Linked DNA regions of Homo sapiens: region 2 is linked to region 1. Evidence: fine-mapped expression QTL. A gene starts in region 1. The other region holds a variant in brackets. All regions are shown on one strand. Distances are from middle to middle.

Region 1 (11,588 bases):
ATAAGCATTCAGAAAATATTTGCTACATAAATGATATTTGTTTGATTTTTCAGTTGTGGGGGTTAATTTTATTCCCTGCTGAATTCTGGGCTTTCTGAAGCCCCATTTAGACTTCTTTGTATACCCAAAAGTGCCATTGTCCCTCAACTTCTGCTATCCACCTCTCCCTTCTCCATACTAAACTGCTCACTACAACTACTCTCCCCCTGTTCTCTCACCTCTGCCTCTGCATGAATTCACCTGGACTGCCTTCTTCATCACCTCCACCTTCCTCACAAACTCTCAAGATTAATCTCCAAATTTCATTAGTGTACTGATATTATCATTTGTTCAAATATTTCCAAATCTCTCAAGTTCTTCAGTAAAACTTTTCCATCAAGTAACAGAAAGTGATGCATCAAGTGACAATTGCAGATTGAGTGGTAAAGACAGCTGAAGGACAAATGATCTGAGGTTACTTATGTAATTTCTTTTCCTCCCCCAAATATGCCATATTTCAGTGACTTTCTGGGCTTTGCGCCTGCAGAACTAGACCAGGGTACGAGGGCAGGAATGTTCTCACTACTGTGGGTCTGTGCACTCAATCACTCACCCATAAAAGAAATGCCTTATTTACAGCAAACAAAACCAATTTAGGACAAAGCTATCACTTAACGGTCTTCCCCACAAGGAAGGTCAATAGTTTAGCATCTAAATTATTTGAGATGGATTCCCTTTTCTAAAAGCAGAAATTGCAGCTGTACTTCATTTTAAAAAAAGAAAAAAGTCAAATATTTATTCTCCTAGGCAAGAGGGAGATACAGGTAAGTCACAACTTCCAATGCAGCCGCCACAGCCTCATTTAGCTGATAAGAACTTGCCCATAACCTTTAGTCCTTCACTTACAAAAGTCATGCATTCATCTTTCTCCTCCCACTTCCGTAAAGGCAGAAAATTAGGCTGGAGCCATTCTTTCTGAGTATACAACAGCAGGGGCATGGGTTTAAGCAGTTTCTTTGACAACATACATTCCTCTGTAAGTCCCTGGACAGAAGCTCTGGGCTGCACAGAAAACATACAACAAGGATTCTAAAATAGGAGGCCTGGCCAGGCACAGTGGCCCACATCTGTAATCCCAACACTTTGGGAGGCTGAAGGGGGCAGATCACTTGAGGTCAGGAGTTTGAGACAAACCTGACCAACATGGCGAAACCCCATCTCTACTAAAAATACAAAAATCAGCCAGGCATGGTGGCGTGCATCTGTGGTACCAGCTACTCAGGAAGCCGAGGCAGGAGAATCGCTTGTACCCAGGAGGAGGAGGTTGTAGTGAGCCAAGATCAGGCCACCGCACTCCAGCCTGGGTGAGAGTGAGACTCTCTTTCAAAAAAAAAGTAAAATAAAATTGGAGACCTGAAAGGCAGTGCTTCTCCTACAAGAGAGCTCCATGAACTTCCACTAGCCAAAGAGAGGGGAAATACCCTAAGAGACAACAAAACTGTGCTTAGACTTAAGAACCATTTCAAACTCAGTGCCCTCAGCCAACATTTCCCCTAAGACTTGACTGGCAGTATGTACTCATATCTTGCCCACCATGGCAGTGCCTGGCTATATTACACCACCAAGTACTGCACACACTTTTCACTTGGCTATATGGACACAGCAACATGGCCCCTGTCTACCAGGATTTAGGTCTTTGGAAAGACTTCTAACCATGGTTAGACCCTTACTGCTAAATTCACTGAACACCACTCTGCTAAAAGTTTCAAAGCCAGCCTAACTTAGATTTATAACAGGGGGCGTGTACAGTACATTAATTACATGCCTGTGCTTTGGCTGCCAGGACTGGGATTCAGCCTCTGTATGGTTTAAACCCCTGAAACCTCCTTAGCAGACCCTGCAGGTCTCCACATGATTTGGCCCTTGTCTTCCTCTCAGACCTAGTCTACTACCACTTTCCCCCTCTAATTACCTAGACATGCCCAGCTCATTCTCATCTCAGTCTTTGCACTTGCTGTCTGCTCTGCCTAACACACTCTTCCCCTTAGTCTCACCTAGCTGGCTACCTTTCATCGCTCAGGTCTCAGCTCATATGTCAAAAAGGCCATCTCCAGGATCACTTACATATAATGCTGAGCAATGTGAAGTATGTGTATGCCTACATATAATTTCACCTAAAGTACAAAACTGAACAAAACCAGCGTTATAAGTCAGGGGACTGGTGACCCTTTGTAGGGTGGAGGTAGTGACAGGCAGGAGCACCAGGGGGCCTCTGGGTTGTTGTTAAATGATCGTTTTCTTCATCTGTACCTAGTTAGCTGGGTTTGCATTCAGTTTATGAAAATTCATCAAGTTGTTCATTTGTAATTGTTCATTTTTCAGTATGTCTTATATTTCAGTTTAAAAAATTATGCCAATCAAAAACACACCATATCAAATAGGTCTCCTCTGATCATCCAGTCTAAACTACCCTGCTGTGAAGCAATCCATTCTCCATCCCATGACCCTGACTGATTTTCTTCACAGAATCTGTCATTGGCTGAAATCATTTTCATTATTGGTTATATGTGTACTGGCTCACTCTCTCCCACCTCCATTAAAATAAAGTATCACGTGGCCAAAGACTCTGCCTGCCTCATTCACCATCCCCAAACCCCAGGGCCTACAACAGTCCTGCCAAATGGTATGGGCTGAATAAAAACTATATGAAAAATAAGAAATGACTAAAGTGGACCCTTTAAGGACGTACTATCAATCAAAAGTCAAAACAGTAAAGCTAACAGCAAAGGTGAAAAAAAAAAAAAAACTTCAATGACACTAAGCATCAGGAATATGTGTCAAATGTTAAATTTAACCATAGGGAGGAGGTAGACAAAATGTCATTCTATGGGTATCTTTGAGAGACCAGTTAAAGTTATTTCTCTAAGCAGAAACTGGGTCTTTTATTTCTGTACAGACAACAGTTTTTCACAAGGCCTGGTGGTATAAAATAGGTCTGGGCCAAGAGTGGCAACAGATTTCTGAGACACTTGGTGAGGATTCTTAAGTATGATGAGAGAAGTGGGCCATGTTTAACTGCAATGTCTGCCACGGGCAAGGGACTATGGAAACGTAATATCAAATCAGTGTACATGAAACAGATCATAGGAAGCACCCAAGAATTTGAAAATAGCAATACTCACCATTTTTATGGACAATTCTAAGATGGTCATAAAGAAAAAAATAAAAATGTGTCAGTGGTGCTAATGACTTGGATGTTATATAGTTACTACTGGCATGCAGATTAATTTGCATGTTGATATAATATATTTTCATGAGGAAGTATATACTCACCAGGAAACAGCATGGTGTAACGGAAACGTAAAGGTAAGCCTTTACTCTGGAATGCCACAAACTCTCACTGTATCGTTGAATATGTCATTGAACTTCTTTAGGCCTCAATTTCTCTACCCATGAAATGAGCTGGCTGGACTAAATGATTGCTAATGTCCATTTCCAGTTCTTGGACACTGTGTACCTTTCTATCTTTAAAAAAACCTACTTTTACCTTCTAAGAATTTACAGAAAAACACATCATCCACAAATATGTAAATCACAGTAACCAGATGGGGCGTGCTAACAGATCTTTTTACCCAGTTTTCTTGACAAACCAAGAGTATCTCTCCCCAACCAGATTTTCTCCTGTGTTGCGTTCAGCCTCTTATTTCTTGGTTAGGGAAGTAGGCTTCACATATTTCAGCTAAACACTCTGCATTTTCAGTTTCTCTGTACAATTCATGAGTTTTCACTGCCCTGGGCCCCATGTTTCTCATCAATTCAAGTCTACACTCATGGTAAGCACCCTAGTTCTTGTTTTTTCTAACACTTAAATAATGAATAGGACTTCATCTCCTAGAGCTATTCTCCTTACTCTATTACAACAGTTATTAGTGAGTTTTAATTAGACAAAACTGCCATTCCTTTTGCTACCTCACTATACTGTCAAGCACCTATTAAGAATATTACAGTAGTAAGTATTAGCACCTTTTAAATTTACATTAACAATAACAGAGAAATGGGGAGGCAGGAAATGAAAGGAGAGGGGTAAAAATAGCTCACAGATGTCATAACCAAAGTTTAGAGGAACTCAAAAAATCATTAATCACTATTTTTTAAATTTTCTAAAAAACTATACTATGCACATCCTGGTTAAAATTGTATGAGTGATAATTTGCCTCTCATCAATTAAAAATGGGGAAATAGGCAAGGTCATTAACTCTGCTGTGGCTGAATCCCAGACTGTGCTTTCTTTAAAAGGGAAGAGAGATAGTCTACGGAGACTAACCAGTTCAGTGGTTGAGTGATTTCTACAAGAGTCATCACCAACTCAAAACTTTCCTGAAGTCCTTCTGACTATTTTAACGCTTGCCATCTGCAGAAGGTAAAAATCTGCTAGAGGCCAAGTTCCAATCGCTATCCAGCCCACCACTGACCCTCTTTGATTTCATTCTCCATCAACAAGGAGGACATGGACAGGGTCAATGGTCTAATGCGTTTTAGTGACAGCCCTGATTTTTCATTGGAAAGAGGAGAAAGATCGTTTCCCATTTTTCTCCTTGACCCACGGATTTGACCAACTCAGGCACATTAAAAGTCTGCAAAAGCAGGTAGCCTGCAGGAAGTTCACCCTAGGGGGTGAGTTCCTAGTTGGGCTGAAACGGGTTTCCAGGCATGTTTATCACGTGGTCTAAACGTGCTCAGGGTTAGTGCCAGAAGTTTGAAAAGCAGAATTAGTAGAGCTGACAATAAAACCTCAGGGCTCCAAAACCCGGTCCAAGAAACTTTTCTTAAACTTGCGTCCAGCGCCTGCTTCAGCGCCTTCGCCATGAGTCTGCGCGGGCAGACAGCGGAGACTCTAGTGCGTTGGGTCGCTCATACCCCGAGGCACCCGGGGCTGCCGCCGCGCCGCCCCTGCCCCACACTGGAGCGGGGTTCCCTGCTGCGCCTGGACCCGGCGCCGCGTCACCTCCCGAAGTGGGGCGCCCGAGGGGCCGCGCAGGGGGTCAGGCGGAGACCAAGAGTAGCAGGGGGCGAGGGAAGCCCGGGCAGGCCGGCGCCGCTGCTGGCGCCCGCAGCTCCTGCCCCCACGCTCACCTGGGACCCGGCCGCCAGGAAGCGGGGCCGCAGCGCTAGGGCTCGCAGAAGCTTCCCGGCCTGCGCTGCTACGGGGGACGCCATCTTAAACAGGAAACTCGGCACGGGGCAGTAGGGCGGGCGCGGGCAGGGGAAGGAGGCGGAGGAGGAGCAGCGGGAGGAGGGGTCAGAGGAGAAGCGGGCGCGGGGAGGAAAAGGAGGAGGAGGCAGAGGCGGTCTGGGCCGGGCCGGGCCTGACCCCTGCGTCCCGGGGGCACAGGCGTTCTTAAGGCTGCAGAGCCCTGGGTCCCCCACCCGGCCCCGGTTCACTTTGAGCGGTCCCAAGGCCTGAGGGCCTACTGTCCAGTCCCCAGGTTATCGTCCTGAGCAAAGACAGACCCCGAGCCCTGCGGTCTTGGGGCTCAAACAGTCCCTGGATGGCCAAACAAGCAAATATTCGCCATGGCAGTGGGTGCTGGAAGGGTGGCTCACGGAGCTGACGCCCTCCGCAGAGAACCGTGGTCTAGTCCTGCGGTCACGAGGCCTATCTGGGACAGTGGTGTTTGAGCTGAGACTTTAACGAATAGAGACAGGTGAGGTTCCTGCAGCCCAGGGCTTCAGGTGAGTCAAGGAGAGGCCATTGGAGGCTCTCCATCCCTTAAGGAGTTGTGGGTGTTTTGTTTTGTTCTATCCTTAACCTAAAATCAATGTAAAGCTGAGAGATGAAGCCGGGTGGGTCGGTTGGGGACTTGGAGAACTTCTCTGTCTAGCTAAATGATTGTAAATGCACCAATCAGCGCTCTGTGTCTAGCTAAAGGTTTGTAAATACACCAGCCAGCCCTCTGTGTCTAGCTAATCAGGTGGGGACTTGGAGAACTTTTCTGTTAGCTAAAGGATTGTAAATGCACCAATCAGTGCTCTGTGTCTGGCTAAAGGTTTGTAAACACACCAATCGGCACTCTGTAAAAACGCACCAATCAGCGCTCTGTGTCTAGCTAAACGTTTGTAAATGCACCAATCAGCACTCTTTAAAAAGGGACCAATCAGCACTCTGTAAAATGGACCAATTGGCACTCTGTAAAATGGACCAATCAGCAGGATGAGGGTGGGGCCAAATAAGGGAATAAAAGCTGGACACCGGCGCCAGTAGTGGCCCCTAGTTGGGGTCTCCTTCCAGGTTGTGGTTGCTTTGTGCTTTTGCTTTTTGCAGTAGCTCTTGCTGCTGTTCACTGTTTGGGTCCGCACTATCCTTATGAGCTATAACACTCACCACAAAGGTTTGCAGTTTCACTCCTGAGGTCAGGGAGACTGCGAACCCACTGGGAGGAATGAACAACTCCGTATGCCCCACCTTCGAGGGCTGTAACACTCACTGCAAAGGTCTGCAGCTTCATTCGTGAAGTCAGCGAGACCACGAACCCACAGGCAGGAACAAACAACTCCGGACGGGCCACCTTTAAGAGCTGTAACACTCACTGTGAAGTCTGCGGCTTCACTCCTGAAGTCAGCGAGACCACGAACCCACCGGAAGGAAGAAACCCCAGATACATTTGAACATCTGCAGGAACAAATTCTGGTCACGCCATCTTTACCGCGAGGGTCTGCAGTTTCATTCTGGAAGTCAGCGAGACGATTAAGAACCCACGGGAAGGAACCAATTCCGGACACAAAGCTATTGGAGGATTTTAAGCCCAGTAATCAGAGTGATAAAAGCAACATTCATTTGGAGCTGTGAACCCCAAATACCTGACACAGGTCTCAATCAATTTAAGAAGTTTATTTGGCCACAGTTAAGGACACGTGCCTGTGACACAGCCTCAGGAGGTCCTGACATGTGCCCAAGGTGTGGTGGAGGACACAGCTTGGTTTTATACATTTTAGGGAGATATGAGACATCAATATATGTAAAATGTACATTGGTTTGGTCCAGAAAAGCGAGACAACTGGAAGCAAGGAGGGGCTTCTAGGTTATGGGTAGATAAGACACAAAGGGTTGCATTCTTTTGGGTTTCTGATTGGCCTTTCCAAAGGAAGCAATCAGCTGTGCGTCTATCTCTGTGAGCAGAGGGATGACTTTGAATAGAATGGGAGGCAGGTTTGCCCTAAGCAGTTCCCACCTTAACTTTTCCCTTTACCTTAGTGATTTGGGAGTCCCAAGATTATTTCCCTTTCACAGAGTTTACGCGAGTCTAAGCAATGTGCATATAATAAAAACAACAGCAAAGTTACTGAATGTGTGCCAAGCATTAGACAAATATAAACTTGTTTAGTCTTCATAGCAAAGTTTTAAATGAGTAGAAGTGTACAATCCCCATTTTGCAGAAGAGAAAACTGAGGTGCACAGAGGTTAAGTAACTTGCCAGAGGTGGCAGGTCTGATAAGAGATGAGATTCACATCCCTTCCACCCACCCCCAAATTAAGCACTATTTTAGATTTTTTTTTTTAACCTTACTCATTCTTGAGCATATGATCATGAAAAAAGGTACAATGTGACATAAGTAGACAGCTGTTGCTACTAGCTTCTTTCCTAATCTCTCTCTTTGGAAAGTGGGGGAGCTGAGGATTTTTATTTTAATATAATTTCTAGCCCATTTCGAGACATAGTTTTACCCACTAGATGTAGCATCTTTTGATGATAAGGATGATGATGATTGTTTAAATCAATTATTGTCACGATGGTGGCAAAGTGGCAAGGTCTAACTCCATCCTACATTTATTAGTCTGTATTCTACTCAGAAAAACTGCACTCTTTCCATCATCTCCATTGATGAAAGAAAAACTTCAGCTAAATTAAATGTAAAGGAGTTTAATTGAGCAATGAACGGTTCGCCAATCGGGCAGCTCCCAGAATCACAGTGGATTCACAGAGACTCCAGCGCAGCCACGTGGTGGAAGAAGATTTATAGAGGAAAAAAGGGAAATGACTTACAGAAATCAGAAGTGAGGTACAGAACAGCTGGATTGGTTACAGCTTGGCATTTGCCTTACACAGTTTGAACACTCAGCAATGTATAAATGGTTAAAATATGGCCACTGGGATTGCCAAGACTTAGCTGTTGTTTTAGGTCCATACTTCTAAGTTAGGTTTTCAATCTTGTCTACCTATTAAGCTAGGTTGCAGTTCGTCCACAAGGACTCAAATATAGAAGTACCGAGTCCTCCTTAGGCCATATTTAGTTCACTGTAACACTATTCGTCGGTGAATTGTTTTATTCACTTGTATCACTGTGGACTCATGGATTCTTTTTTATTAAATGGCAAACCGATGCTCTTTCCTGATACATACACTCTGCTGCCTCTGTTTTCAGTCATTTAATCTTCACAGGAGCCCTGCAAATGGGGTCCTACTATTATTCCCATTTTGCCAGAGAGAAACTTGGCCACAGAGTTCCACATGACATTTACATGACTCTAAGGTCAAGTAACTTGCCAAGGGTGACACAGCTTGGGATCAAATTTCCCAAAGCTGGACTCCAATCACTCTTAGCACCCTCCTCTTGACAAAACTGGATTTGAGTTTCCATATTGTTCATCATTACCCCTACTGGGTCCGCCGGGATAGAGCAAAGACTTGCTAATGTTTGAGAGTGAACGTTTAAACTTGGTGAGAGCTTGTGAACATTTTGCCAAAAGGAGGAAGACCACCTATAGAATTAATCAAAGGCTGTTTATTCAGACGTTACTATGCTAAGGGAGTTGGCTACTATCACTTTCCTTCCAAATGAGACTAGAAGTCGTTTGAAAGAAGTGTTAGTTTTATAGAGATAAAGGAGAGACTCTTAAGACTGTCTTTGATTGATGAGTGTTCTTTTAAGATGCGATTATTCTATTATGGGGGGATTTTTGAAAGTGGAGTCGGGAGAGGCTTTCTGATTGTCATCCAAGTACATTTGGTATTCTTTGATTTGTTTACTATCTACTGGTGCGTAACTTGGGGTCTTTCCAGGGTTAGCAGCCTCCTAAGAGTTTTCCTGTCTGAATTGGAAGACTGTCTCATCCTTGGTTCTGGGGTCCAAATCTTTCATCAGCAATTCCTCAGTGTCTTTACTCGTATTATCTCATTCTGCCTTCTCTGCAGGAAGGTGGTAGGGGAGAAGGGACAGAAGGAAGAAAGAGAACCATTTATGTAGCACCTCCAGTGTCTAGCACTGGACTTTGATTAGAAAAAGTAATCAATAAACATATGTGGAATGAATTGCATTATAGAGTTCCTCGTAAGATTTCTCCCTATTTCATACTCCCCGCTTCCACCCTCCAACCTCCCCCAAATAGGAATCTCTTTGAGAACAGGGAATCTAGATTCTACCAGAGTTCTGCACTGTGCTTTCCTGGAACAAGCATTAAGTTTTCAGCCAAACTGGATTGGATTCAAATCTGACCTCCACCCCCTTGAACACCTGTGACTAGGAAAATACCTGGTTCATAGGGTAGTAGTAAGTAGTCAATGATCAGATGTTGCATGTAAAGACCTTGCACATAGTAAAGACTTCATAGATGTTCTTTTTCTTCCTCTAGTGGGTCCATAACAAATATTTGCTTGATATCAAATGTGAAACACTAGGGCCAATCTGAGATGTAGGTTAGGAGACCCCTGACACTTTGTAATTTATCTTGATAGCACTGGAGAATTACAGAGATGTACAAATGCCAGACAAAAGTATTAAGAGTCTAAAGTGGTTGCCTCCAAGAAGAGGATAGAGAGTAGTGGTCAAGGAACCATTACATTTTGTTTTAGAGTTTCAAATATTCAGATTCCTGGTCTCCACCTCATACTCATGAAATCAGAATCACTTAGGATGGAGACTGGGACCTGCATTTTAAATAATCTTTCCAAAGTGTTCTTTAGTTTGAGAACTAAAAAAGCAAACAAAGCAAACCATAGTGGTGAACTCTGAAGATGTTTCCTGGTGAATCCAAAGACGAGTTACTCTGCTATCCCCCATTTGGTTCCTAAATATAGGACAAAAAGTTGATAAATCATAGATGGAGATGATGACTGGTGCTTTCAGAGAGCCTTGACACCTGGTACCAGACCCATTTTCTACCCGTGGTCTAAATCGGCTGCGACATGTAGAAGCATTGGCTTAAGGTGAATGAACAGCTATTCTACGCTTTTGCTGTGTCAAAATGGCAATTGTGAACTGCTTGAACAGTAACTATGGCCATAGGCAATAGCACTATTGAAAGCATTCTGCACTCTGATATCAGACTGAAGCACAGAGGTAGACATTGCAAGTGTTGACTCTGTGATTTAAAAGCTCCATGACCCTGGACCAGTTACTTAACAATCTCAATTCCTTGATCTGTGGAAAGGGGATTATGATAGTACCTATTTTGCCAATGAGATGCATCCTCAAACACTTGAGATCCCAGTGGCTGTTACCTACCATACCTTCATTATTTGACTAAGAACTCTTTTTCGTGTGTTTATTTCTTTAGTATTTACATCTGTGAACCTCAGTTTTCCTATTAGTAAAATGAAGGTCAAGTATGACATCTTATTTGAGCTGTGAGTTGACAGTGTAACACTTCTCATAAACTGCATGCATTTGAAATATGAAGTTGTAAAACTCTACGATTAAGCTTTGTATTTCTAGCACCTTGGCTATACTGTTTCTTATTCAGTTAATTGTTGCAAAAAGAAAAATAAAAACATCAGCAGGCCTATATGCCTTCGCTTTCATCTTAGCAGTGCCTGTTAACAGTGAAATAATGTGCTCATTTTCATATTCGCACTGATTACTCTAGGGGCGCAGATTTACCAGAGAGACATATCATGAAACCCAGCAAAGGGATACTGCATCTAGCAGTTCTGGTGGTGTTTTATCATTACCTTTTCACTTGAGCATAAAAACTGTTTGACAAATACTAATTGTAACCAGCAGAGCTGAATAGAATATTTTAAGAAACAACCCTAATTTTCATGAATTACATATTTGAGTTCATACTGCTGCATGTCAAGAATGAAAATCACTATTACAATGATGAAATAAAGGGCATCTGTGGATTTCATCTGGTTAATTTTTTAATGGATAACAGATTTCTGGAATTTACAGGAGACTAAACTTTTTGGTCTTTCATTGTATGCATAGGTAATATCACTGTTGCTATTTGTGATAGCCATTTTAACCAGTGATTCAGTTGTATTGTTTGCCAGTGGCACAGAAAGAATGGTCATTGTGCTCAAGTTATTTTTCCCTCTTCAATAATGCGTTAAAATGATTAATTTTGATGGTATTTCTCAGCAGCTTTATTTAAATGACGGTCCTCTGTATCTGTGGGTTCCACATCTATGATTCAACCAACTGCAGATTGAAAATATTCTGGGGAAAAAATAAAAAATAACAATAATAAAAAATGATACAAGTAAAAAATACAGTGTAGCAACTATTTTCATAGCATTTACATTGTATTTGGTATTACAAGTAATCTAAAAATGACTTAAAGTATACAGGAAGATGTGCATAGGTTATATGGAAATATTATGTCATTTTAT
Region 2 (11,588 bases), 520 kb after region 1:
CATGGAACTGAAAAATGGTGGTTGGTATTTTGGTTTAAAAGATAATTGTGGTCCATCGCAATAGAGGAAATAAGTAAATTGATATGGTTTTGCTGTGTCCCTGCTCAGATCTCATCTTGGAGTCCCACATGTTGTAGGAGGGACCCAGTGGGAGGTAACTGAATCATGGGGGCAGGTCTTTCCTGCCGCCAAGAAGACAGAAAAATGTGGGAAAGTTTGGAACTTCCTGGAGACTTGTTGAATGACTTTGACAAAAATGCTGATAGTGACATGAACAATAAGGTCCAGGCTGAGGTGGTCTCCGGTGGAGATGAGGAACTTGTTGGGAACTGGAGCAAAGGTGACATTTGTTATGTTTTAGCAGAGACTGGCAGCATTTTGCCCCTGCCCTAGACATTTGTGGAACTTTGAACTTAAGAGAGATGATTTAGTGTATCTGGCGGAAGAAATTTCTAAGCAGCAAAGCATTCAAGAGGTGACTTGGGTGTTGTTAAAGGCATTCAGTTTTATAAGGGAAGCAGAGCATGAAAGTTGGAAAATTTGTAGCCTAACAATGCGATAGAAAAGAAAATACCATTTTCTGAGGAGAAATTCAAGCCTGCTGCAGAAATTTGCATAAGTAACAAGGAACCCAATGTTATTGCCTAAGACAATGGGGAAAATCTCCCCAGGGTATGTCAGAGGTCTTCATGGCTGCCCCTCCCATCACAGGCCCAGAGGCCTAGGAGGAAAAAGTGAGCTGAACCCAGGGTTCTCCATGCTGTGTGCAGCCTAGGGACTTGGTGCCCTGCAGCCCAGCTGCTCCAGCCATGGCTGAAAGGGGCCAATGAAGAGCTCAGGTCATGGCTTCAGGGGATGCCAGCTTCAAGCCTTGGCAGCTTCCCCAAGGTGCTGAGCTTGCAAGTGTACAGAAATCAAGAATGAAGGTTTGGGAACCTCTGCCTAGATTTCCTAGTGTAGATGTATGGAAACACCTGGATGTCCAGGCAGAAGTTTGCTGCAGGCGCAGGGCCCTCATGCAGAACCTCTGCTAGGGCAGTATGGAAGGGAAATGTGAGGTTGGAGCCCCAACACAGAGTCCCTACTGGGGCGCTGCCTAGTGGAGCTGTGAGAAGAGGGCCACTGTCCTCTAGACCTCAGAATGGTAGATCCACTGACAGCTTGCACCATATACCTGGAAAAGCCTCAGACACTCAATTCTAGCCCATGAAAGCAGCCAGGAGGAAGTCTGTACCCTGCACAACCACAAGGGCGGAGTTGTCCAAGACTATGGGAACCCACCTCTTGCATCAGTGTGACCTGCATGTGAGACATGGATTCAAAGGAGATCATTTTGGAGCTTTAAGATTCGTCTGCCCTGCTGGACTTTGTGCTTGCATGGGGCCTGTAGCCTCTTTGTTTCGGCCAATCTCTCCCGTTTGGAATGGTTGTATTTACCCAACGCCTGTTTACCTGCTGTATCTAGAAAATAACTTACCTGTTTTTGATTTTACAGGCTCATAGGTGGAAGGGAATTGCCTTGTCTCAGATAAGACTTTGGACCGTGGGCTTTTGAGTTAATTCTGAAATGAGTTAAGACTTTGGGGGATGGTTGGGAAGGCATGATTGTTTTTGAAATGTAAGAACATGAGATTTGGGAGGGGCCAGGGGTGGAATGATATGGCTTGGCTATGTCCCCACCCGAGTATCATCTTGAATTCCCACATGTGGTGGGAGGGACCCAGTGGGAGGTAACTGAATCATGAGGGCAGGTCTTTCCCATGTTTTTCTTGTGATAGTGAATATGTCTCACAAGACCTGGTGATTTTAAAATGGGAGTATCCCTGCACAAGCTTTTTCTTTGCCTGCACCATCCACATAAGATGTGAGTTGCTCCTCTTTCCCTTCTGCCATGATTGTGAGACCTCCCCAGCCATGTGGAACTGTACATTCATTGAACCTTTTTTTCTTCCCAGTCTCAGGTACGTCTTTATCAGCAGCATGAAAATGGACTAATACATGAATATAAATACAGTTTACAGGCAGGATGCCATGGCTCATGCCTACAATTCCAGCACATTGGGAGGTCAAGGTGGGAGAATTGTTTGAGGCCAGGAGTTTGAGACAAGCCTGGGCAACATATTGAGACCCTGTTTCTACAAAAATTGAAAAAACTAGGTGAGCATGGTGTCAAGTCCCTGTGGTCCTAGCTATTTGGGAGGCTGAGGCAAGAGGATTGCTTGAGCCCAGGAGTTCCACCTCACAGTGAGCTATGATTGCACCACTGCACTCCAGCCTGGGTGACAGAGTGAGACTCCACCAAGTAAATAATAAAGTTTACAGATCATTTAGTCTCCCCTATAATTTTGATGAAGCTTTTTAATTGACAGGATTTGCATTAGTTCAAATACTTCCCATAGTGGGAAGTGCTATTACCATTTTGATATCATACTCATTAAAATTTGCATAATTCATGTTGCATGCACATACACATACATATTTACCACTTCTCTATTCCCACTAAACCCTGACCAATGTGTTTGTTCGTTTAGACAATGCCCCTCCTGGGACACCCAGGCCACATAAAATAGCAAAGAGTTCATTAGAATGGTGTCACCAGCATAGCTATAATTAAGGCTACATCAGCAATTTTGGGGCTTAAAACTCCATTGTAAAGTTGTATTCTGGGATGAAACTCAGCACAAAAGCTCAACCTGGGAGTAGATTGTTTACTAGTTCTGGGAGGAATGTGGGGGGAAATTGATTCAGTTGTTTATGATTCACTATATTGCTCATCTGGTTCTTGGTGGCATTTGAATTAAGATGTTTTATAGACTGGTGATCATCGAGAACTGGTATTTTCACCGAAGTCTTCATAGACCTTACTGAAACTGTAAATATTACAGAAACTCAGATGGTGTCAACTGTTTATATTCTATGAATGAGGACAAATATGCATAGGGATGCAATTAAAAGAGAAAAGGAGTAATTCTAATTAGGCAGAATTGGTAACATATTTCATCAAAGTAGGACGCAGAGAATTCCTTAGTTGCCCACATATTTCTGCCAAGTAGACACCAAGGCATGCTCCCTCGAATTTGCTCTGGGATATTTAATTGGTAAATCAACATTAATGATCAGAGAAGTTTAGAACCAGCTCTTTTAGAAAACTGAGATTCACACTTGACTTCTCTTAGATGTAGCTACAGAGCTCATGGCTAAAGAGAAAACCTCACTAATGAAAAAAGTCCTGGAATTCTGTGCTTCTTCAGCTTCTTTACTACTACCTTGCTCTTTTGAAGAGAGAAACTTGTCATCCTGAGACTTCTAGCTGTAGTAATCAGGAATATAATAGGAGTAAGCTCCTATTATATTCAATTTGTGATTAGATATATTGTCATCTTGGGTACAAGTTTAAATGTAGTTTTAGGCAGTTATCTAAAGTGTAGTCCCAATCTAAATAATTAGAAACTCCTAATTTTCCACAAGGGCTTAACTATTAATGGTGAATATAATAGTTACAAGCTGGAAGTCTTGAGGAAGACAGAACCAAGTTCAAATGCTCTTCCTACTCCTTTTATAATCTGTCTTGTCTTTGGGCAAATGACTTAATACCCATGACCTTCAGTTTCTCCTTCTAAACTCTGATGGTAATAATAGTAGATATTTCAGAGGATGGTCACCAAATTAAAAACTTAACCCTGGGCTGGGCATGGTGGCTCACGCCTGTAATCCCAGCCCTTTGGGAGTCCGAGGTGGGCGGATCACAAGGTCAGCAGATCGAGACCATCCTGGCTAACATGGTGAAACCCCATCTCTACTAAAAATACAAAAAATTAGCCTGGTGTGGTGGTGGGCGCCTATAGTCCCAGCTACTCGGGAGGCTGAGGCAGGAGAATGGCGTGAACCTGGGAGGCGGAGCTTGCAGTGAGCCAAGATGGCACCACTGCACTCCAGCCTGGGTGAGAGTGCGAGACTCCATCCCCCCCTCCCCAAAAAAAAATACATGACCCTGCAAAGCACCATACCTGGTATATGGTAACTATTTATTATGTTGTGTGATGGCCTAACCAAAATTTATTTTCAAGTTGTCATCTATTTCCTCATTCATTCACTCATACAACACATACTTATCAGTTGCTTCCACTGTGCCAGACATGCTGATTCAATGCTGGAAATAATAGTGAGCAGGGTTGGCATAATCCCTTTCTTATTATTTAATATTGTAGTGGAAGGAACAGACCAAAAACGTTATCAAAGAAGTAAAATGATCATGATTTTTTATAGGTGTTAGGAATGAAGCAAGCAAGGGGTTAAGATGGAAATTAATAATGGAGAGATGGGTATGAGAATTAATTCAGAGTGTTCAGGGAAGGCATCCAGGAGGAGGTATGTATAAAACTGTTACCTAACTGACAAACAGGCTGGAAAAAAAGCTCAGGAAAGATACTCCAGGCTAAAAGAGAAACAGATATATATGCCCTGGGGCGGAAATACCTTGGCATGCACAAGGATCTGAAAGACAGCTACTTGGCTGGACCACAAGGAAGGTAAGGTAGAATAATGAGATTAGCTGGGAAAAGGAGAAATGGACAAAGTAGCACAAAGCTTTGTTATCCACGTAAGGAGTTTAGATTCAATTTAGAGAATAGTGAGATCCCTAGAAGAGATGATGTACTGAGGTACACTGTTTAAGGAGGTGCTTCCAGCTGGTGGTGGAGAATGGCTTGAAGAAAGTCAGTAGTATCTCTCTGAGCTTCCTTATGGATCAAAGGGGAAATCCCCAAACACACGTCTGGGGCTATTTTGTAGCCAGTGAATTCTGTGATAAACTCGGAGATATTGTATGTTTTTACTGTTAACATATCAAGGAGGAGAGAAGGTGGTGCTAAGAACACACTTATTTGATGAATAAGAGCAGTTTTTTATAGCAGAACCACTCAAGACTACATAATTGCTATTTTGAAACACACATCATCATTCATAATTTCATTAGGCTATAACTTACTTCCAGGAAAACTATATTTTATGTCAACTCATCTTCCCTGAACAGAAACCCTACTTTTGGCATTTTTAAAATTTAAAATTCTAGGACATATACCAGATCAGCATATTTCTTTGATTTCTTTCCTCTGTATGTAGAAAATATTTTTAGGCTTTACAACCCTACATTACTAAATGACCTTCAGAACTTAATTTAAGTGCACAAGTATTACAGAATGAAAGTGGAATTCTGATCTTCATTAGGATTTTAAAATTTGGATCATGTTGTTCCTGCTCATTTTGTTCATCTTTCCATTTTTCCTCCTTTTAACATTGGTCTGCATTTTTAAAGAAAATGAAGTTGTAAAAATTGAACTAGGGGTTTTCTTTTTCTGTACTCCTTGTGTTTCTAAATTATTAAATAATAATGTAATAACAAGCACTTATCTAGTGATTTATTAAAGAACCTCTTGTTTGCAACTCCAGCCCTGGAGAACACTGAAAATGTTTTCTTTGTAAAGTTTCCAAAGTAACATCAGCTAATCTGCCTCTTCTTGATGTAACCGCACAATGCTAGAATTTTTCACTTATTAATTATCAAATAAATGAATTGGATAATAGATATGTGAAGTAGAAAATAGTTTCTTTTGGATTGTCAAATAAGGTGACTTTGCTTGAATGCATGCTCCTGAAATTTGGGAGGACAGTCTTCCCATCTGTCCTTCATTTACCTGACCCCATTTATTTGTATGTATGCTTGTGTGAATGCAAATAAATTATTAATTATGCTTAAACTCTATGAACAAATCAGCTAGTGTACACCAAATTTTGACGCTTGCATAAGATTCTTTCCTGCCTATAACACATAAT[T/TTTATTATTATTATTA]TTATTATTATTATTATTATTATTATTATTATTTGAGAGGGAGTCTTACTCTGTCACCCAGGCTGGAGTGCAGTGGCACCATCTGGGCTCACTGCAACCTCCACCTCCCAGTTTCAAGTAATTCTTCTGCCTTAGCCTCCCATGTAATGTAGCTGGGACTACAGGTGTGCACCACCACACCTGGCTAATTTTTTTTTTTTGTATTTTTAGTAGAGACAGTCTTTCACTATGTTGGCCAGGCTGGTCTCGAACTCCCGACCTCAGGTTATCCACCTGCTTTGGCCACTCAGAGTGCTAGGATTACAAGTGTGAGCCACCACATCCAGCCTATTTTATTTATATATGTCAGACTCATGTTGAGCTGGGTTTTCAGATTGTGAGCTGAAATGGCAGAGGAGCTAGATAGCTAGTAACAAGAGGTAAAGGATACTGAACGAGAACAGCATCACACCTGCAGGCAATTTTTGTTTGATTAGCCCATATTGTCCCAACATAAGAAGTTCAGATGATTTATCGTAAATACTGGGATTTATGGTTTCTTTTGAAAAATGAGCCAGTTGACAAAAGTCAGTAGGAGGTGAGTAGTGTCTGCCCCTTCTAGAGAAGATAGATACTTCCCAGTTTGCCCCAGTCCCTACAACCCCTTATTTTTCTTGGCAACTGACATGTTTCAGTCATTTACAATTCTTCCCTGGCCTCTGCAGACCTTTATGTGTGTGGTCACCAGAATAGCAACATCACCTATGTGGTAGGCAGCTTCTAATACGACCCCTGATGATCCTCTCCTCCTAGTTTTCATGCCCTTCTGTATCCCCTCTCTCTCTGTGTGGGCTAGGCCTAGTGACTTTATTCTGGAAAAAACAACCACAGAATACAGCAAAAACGAAGTGATGTGCCTTCTGAGATTGGGTTATAAAAGGTGGTGACTTCCATTTTGCTGGCACTCTTGGTCTTCCCTTCTCTAGCCTAGCTGGTTTTCATGAAACAAGCTGCAATGCTGCATAAACACACAAAGTACGGACGAGAAGGCCACCTTTGGCCAACGGTCAGCAAAAACCTTGGGCCCTTGGTCCAACAAACTACAAGGAACTGAACCCTGCCAACAAGCACATGAGTGAGTAGATCCTTCTCCAGTTAAGCTTTGAGATGAGACCATAACTGTTGCTGTCATCTTGATTGCAGCCTGGTGAGAGACTCAGTCAGGTGGGGCTGGCTAGTGGGGACCCAGCCAAATTGTGCCCCAACTCCTGATCTGTAGAAACTGTGTCTTGTTTTAAGCTGCTGAAATTTAGAGTAATTTGTTATGCAACAGTAGGTAAATAATATACCTTACTCCAGAGAAAGATGGTGCACTGACTAGAACATACAAAAAAAAAAAAAAAAACTTCCTTAGAATTATGTAAGTGAAGGCAGTAAATTTTTCTGTTCCAGTGAATATAGTTTTGGTCTAATAACTGATGTTGGAGGTACTCAGTAACTATGAAGTAAATTCAGGGTAACCAGTGGTGAGTTAGCTGTTATGAGAGACTGTTATACTGATAATGTTGCTAATAGGGTAATTATTATTTTTTATGCACTGTTTAGATTTATCTTTTAAAAATTCCCTTCATATGTGGTTCCAAATATTCTGATTATCTAAAGTATGTCTTAGATACAAAAATGTTAGAAACTATTGATCAAGACAAGTTCCCAGAATACTAGACTCCTAATGGAGATGACTGGAAATGGCTTAGACATCTGTTGTGGGCTCTCTCAGCACACATCGAAAGGAAAAGAGTGGAGGTTGCAACACTTTCATCTGTAAAATAGGGTGAAATCTAAGTTATGAAAGAAGCAGAGCAGAGCTAAAACATTGTCTCAAAGATCTGGATGTCATTCCTTACTTTTAAACTATATGATAAATACAGTTTACAGGCTGGGGATGGTAGTTCATGCCTGTAATCCCAGCACTTCGGGAGGCTAAGGCAGGAGGATCACTTGAGCTGGGGAGCTTGAGACCAGCCTGGGCAACATAGTGAGACCCCATCTCTACACAAAGCAAAAAACATTAGCTGGGTGTGGGTGGCACACGCTTGCAGTCTTAGCTACTGGTGAGGCTGAGGCAAGAAGATCACTTGATCCCAGGAGGTCAAGGCTGCAGTGAGTCATGATTAAACCACTGTACTCCAGCCTGGGTGACAGAGTGAGACCCTGTCTCAAACATAAATGAATTCATAAACAGACAGACAGACAAACTGTGTAACCCTTAATGGATTTCTCAGTATTACATTACCAGGTGGAAAATTGGATACTATTCATTTCTTTATTCAGCAAGCTTTGTAAAAGCCCCAGTGTTGTACTGTGTATTGTGCTCAGTATGGAGATACAAATGAATGAGATGTATAGTGTGATGCATGGTGCCGTCAGCTTCTGGGGTGGTGACATTTACATACAATGCAGTAGTATTTCATTCAAAACTACTAACAGTTTAACATCCAAATATCAGAAATGGGAATTAGAAATTATTGTACCAGGTTATTGCTTCAATTGGTACTGTTGTTATTACTAATTTATCTGATCCTATAGAATACTGAATTTATCACATTAACATGAACAACATCCAACACCCCTTTAAAGTACTTAATGCACAACACTCTTTTAAAGTACTTGTCAACATACACACATTTTAATGTGAGTTTTAACATAATGTCTTACAGCCCTTAAGTCATTTCTGTATATAAACCTTGCATTCTTGTAAACCCTACGTAAAACATATTGCTTTATGCACTATACACATTTATTAGCAATTTCAGCCAATTTAGTTTATTATTTAGTGATAATGTCATGTTTTATGGATGCTGTTTATATTTTATGCATATGGTGGTGATAAGAATAGGTTGGATTGCATTGAAAATATAATAAAAAGAAATATAATTTGTGTCTAGGTTCCAGAGGTTCATAGATAAAATGTTGAAACAAATCATCAAAGTCATGTATCTTTATTTCAGTTGGTTCAACCAACCCTCCCAAATAATTATCCTATCAGAAAATTCTTGCACTACTCAATACATTTGACCTGAGCAGTATGTGTGTAGTTTTATCATCAATCAATAGTATACCTGCCCCATCGCTTTGGGTGAAATGGTGGTTTGAGAGGGCTTTAATTCTTCAAAAGATCCATTGACTAGTTTTGCCCAAGTTCACCTTTTAAAGTTATCCCAGGACCACTTATTGTGCATCAAGTATGAGAAGTGGAGCAAAGGTTAATGATTCTTAATTGGACTTCATTAAGTGATAATATAAGATCTCGAGCTCCTCATTATGCCCCATGATTGGACAGCAATGTCATAACATCAGGAAATAAGGAACCAGAAGTCATGCATTGTCATACATTGGAACACTCTAGCAACTTATTATGTTTCAGATACATTGTCTTTAGTGAGGTATAAAAGTGAGGTGCATATTAATAGCTTGATGAAGTTCCCATTTTAAGACAAAGTATATTTTTGATGCAATAAAGACTTTGATTGGAACTATTATGATCAGAAGACTGTTGGATCCTGTATATCTTTTCTTATTATTTATTAGCTGCCCTCAACAGTGAGAAGGTTATTGGATCATTTCACAGCTTATGCAGTCTAATTGAAACACAGAATTTTGTTCATGCATCACTTTTGAATTTAGGGACTGTTCATTCTTTCATTACCTGTGTGGTGATTTCCAACCCACTTTGGTAATACAAGGGATTGTGATAGCATATTTGCTCCTAAGCACATTCTATTTAGATCAGAGTCAGTTCTATAGTTCTCATTTTGCTCTGAGAATGGGAATTGATGCATACAAAACAGTAGTAACTGTAGTTAACATGTCAGGGAAAATGAATGCACAGATGTGTACTATATAATGCCATGTGCTTCAGAGATAACCACAGTGAGGGATGTAAGCTAACCTTGGTCTTCTGTAATGCAAAGCTAATATATTCAAAAAGATATTCCCCTTCATTACGATTTAATGTAATTGTTCCTAATCTGTAACCTGAACAAAAAACTCAAATGTCTTATCCAAACACTAACATTAAGCTGCTTTTCTCCAGGATAGCGATATGACACTTTACATTCATATGCCTCAGAGAGGAACTGGACATCAAAAAGTGTCATACATGCTGTATTCTCCCTGAAATTTTCTGCGAATTTCCGTGAATAAGGAATCAAATGATTAGGTTGACACTAACATTTATGATAATTCAGATGATTGACAGAGGATGGATACGGTAATGAAATAGATCACCTCCACAAGTTACATGACAGCGATTTCAAAGCATTCTAAGTCCTACCTGAAAGCAAATATCAGGTTTGATAAACCTTGCAGGGCTGGAGGCTTAGAAAATTATTAGAGTCTGTATTTGGAAACACTGTGGCTAGAAGGTATACCAACATATTTTCTACATTTATGATGATAAGCACTGTGTGCATGTGTGTGTGTGAAAGCAAAAGAAAGAGAGCTGATTTTTATTCTCTATAAGGATAAAAATTATTATTTTTTGCCCCTGAAAACAGTCTGAAATGCTACATAGGTAATTTTTGGCATGTCTCTTCTATCCCTAAAGCAGGACTATTGATTAGCTCCAATATATACTGGGAACACGAAAGCTCCCATTTGCTAACAAAAACAGGTGTTGAACGAATATTAGGTTTGATTAAATGAGCAAAGGTTAACTACTCACTCATGTGAAATTGCTCTAGAGAAAGAAAGATATCAGGCCCAAAGAATGTTGACTGCCATATGTATAGATTTAATATTTTTCATAGTGGCCTGTGGACCACCATTTTACTTGTTAAAAATGTTCACTCTTCAACCCAATGTGATGAAGCAGATTCCTATGGGCTGAGACATGGGAAAGTGTGTTCTGCAAAAACACCCGGGATGTTTTTCTACATCCTTCACTTGAACAATCACTGGTATACATTCAATTTCTCATTTGAAATGCTGTTTTTCTTCATTCAATTTAAACCAATAAATATTTAACCCTGCTATATGTCAGGGACTCTGCCAAGACAATTGTCTAAAAGCCTCTGTTCTCATGACACTCCTAGGCTATCAGAGAAGACAGACATCTGAGCAAGCACTAAGTGGAGATGTGTAGCCAGAGGAACCAGTCCGCATGGGAGACAGCAAGAAGGGTATTCCTGAGGAAGTGACATTTAAAGGGACCCTGGAAGGATGAGTAGGAGCCAGTAAAGTGAGGGTAAGAAGGGAAAGAGAAGGGAAAGGACGTTTCCAAATAGAGCAAATCACATTTGGGGAGCCAACATCAATAAAGAAGAATGGACTTGAAATACAGAAGCCTTAATGGCAGGTAAAGAGAGTAGAAGTTTGTGGTATGTAAGGAGGTAGAAGGGACTGGAACCTCAAGGATGGTATAAGGCTGTGTTTTCCAGTCTTTGGTATTTTCATAACATTTTCATGGTTTGCTCCACCAGAGTACAGCTTGTACTGTTATTTCCTTAATTTGTTGCATTAAATCTATTCACTTCTTGTCTTAAATGAATTTATTTTAAAATAAAACTTTGTATCGCTATGTAAATGCAACCACAGTATCATCTAACCTTAGTAGAAAGACACCTTTAAAATGAACTATTACAGGTGCAGTGGCTCACACCTGTAATCCCAGCACTTTGGGAGGCCAAGCCAGATAGCTCACTTGAGCTCAGGAGTTCCAGACCAGCCTGGGCAACATAAAGAAACTTCATCTCTACAGAAAAAATACAAAAACTAGC

Evidence for each region.
Region 2: its variant is fine-mapped to the expression of SUCLG2-DT in subcutaneous fat (FUSION, PIP 0.95).

The regions. Positions count from the first base shown.
Region 1 is chr3:67,649,391-67,660,978 of GRCh38, forward strand. SUCLG2-DT (SUCLG2 divergent transcript) reads left to right here and starts at 5,307. Exons shown (of 7, transcript NR_109992.1): 1 at 5,307-5,712. SUCLG2 (succinate-CoA ligase GDP-forming subunit beta) reads right to left here and starts at 5,222. Exons shown (of 11, transcript NM_003848.4): 1 at 5,113-5,222. The coding sequence starts at 5,196. RefSeq lists enhancers at 1,345-1,394, 5,029-5,528 and a silencer at 4,834-5,513.
Region 2 is chr3:68,174,180-68,185,767 of GRCh38, forward strand. The region is part of intron 2 of TAFA1 (TAFA chemokine like family member 1); the gene reads left to right. Among named protein-coding and RNA genes, the nearest start is that of TAFA1, 180 kb to the left of the region's middle. The variant T/TTTATTATTATTATTA (reference allele first, on the strand shown) is at 5,833.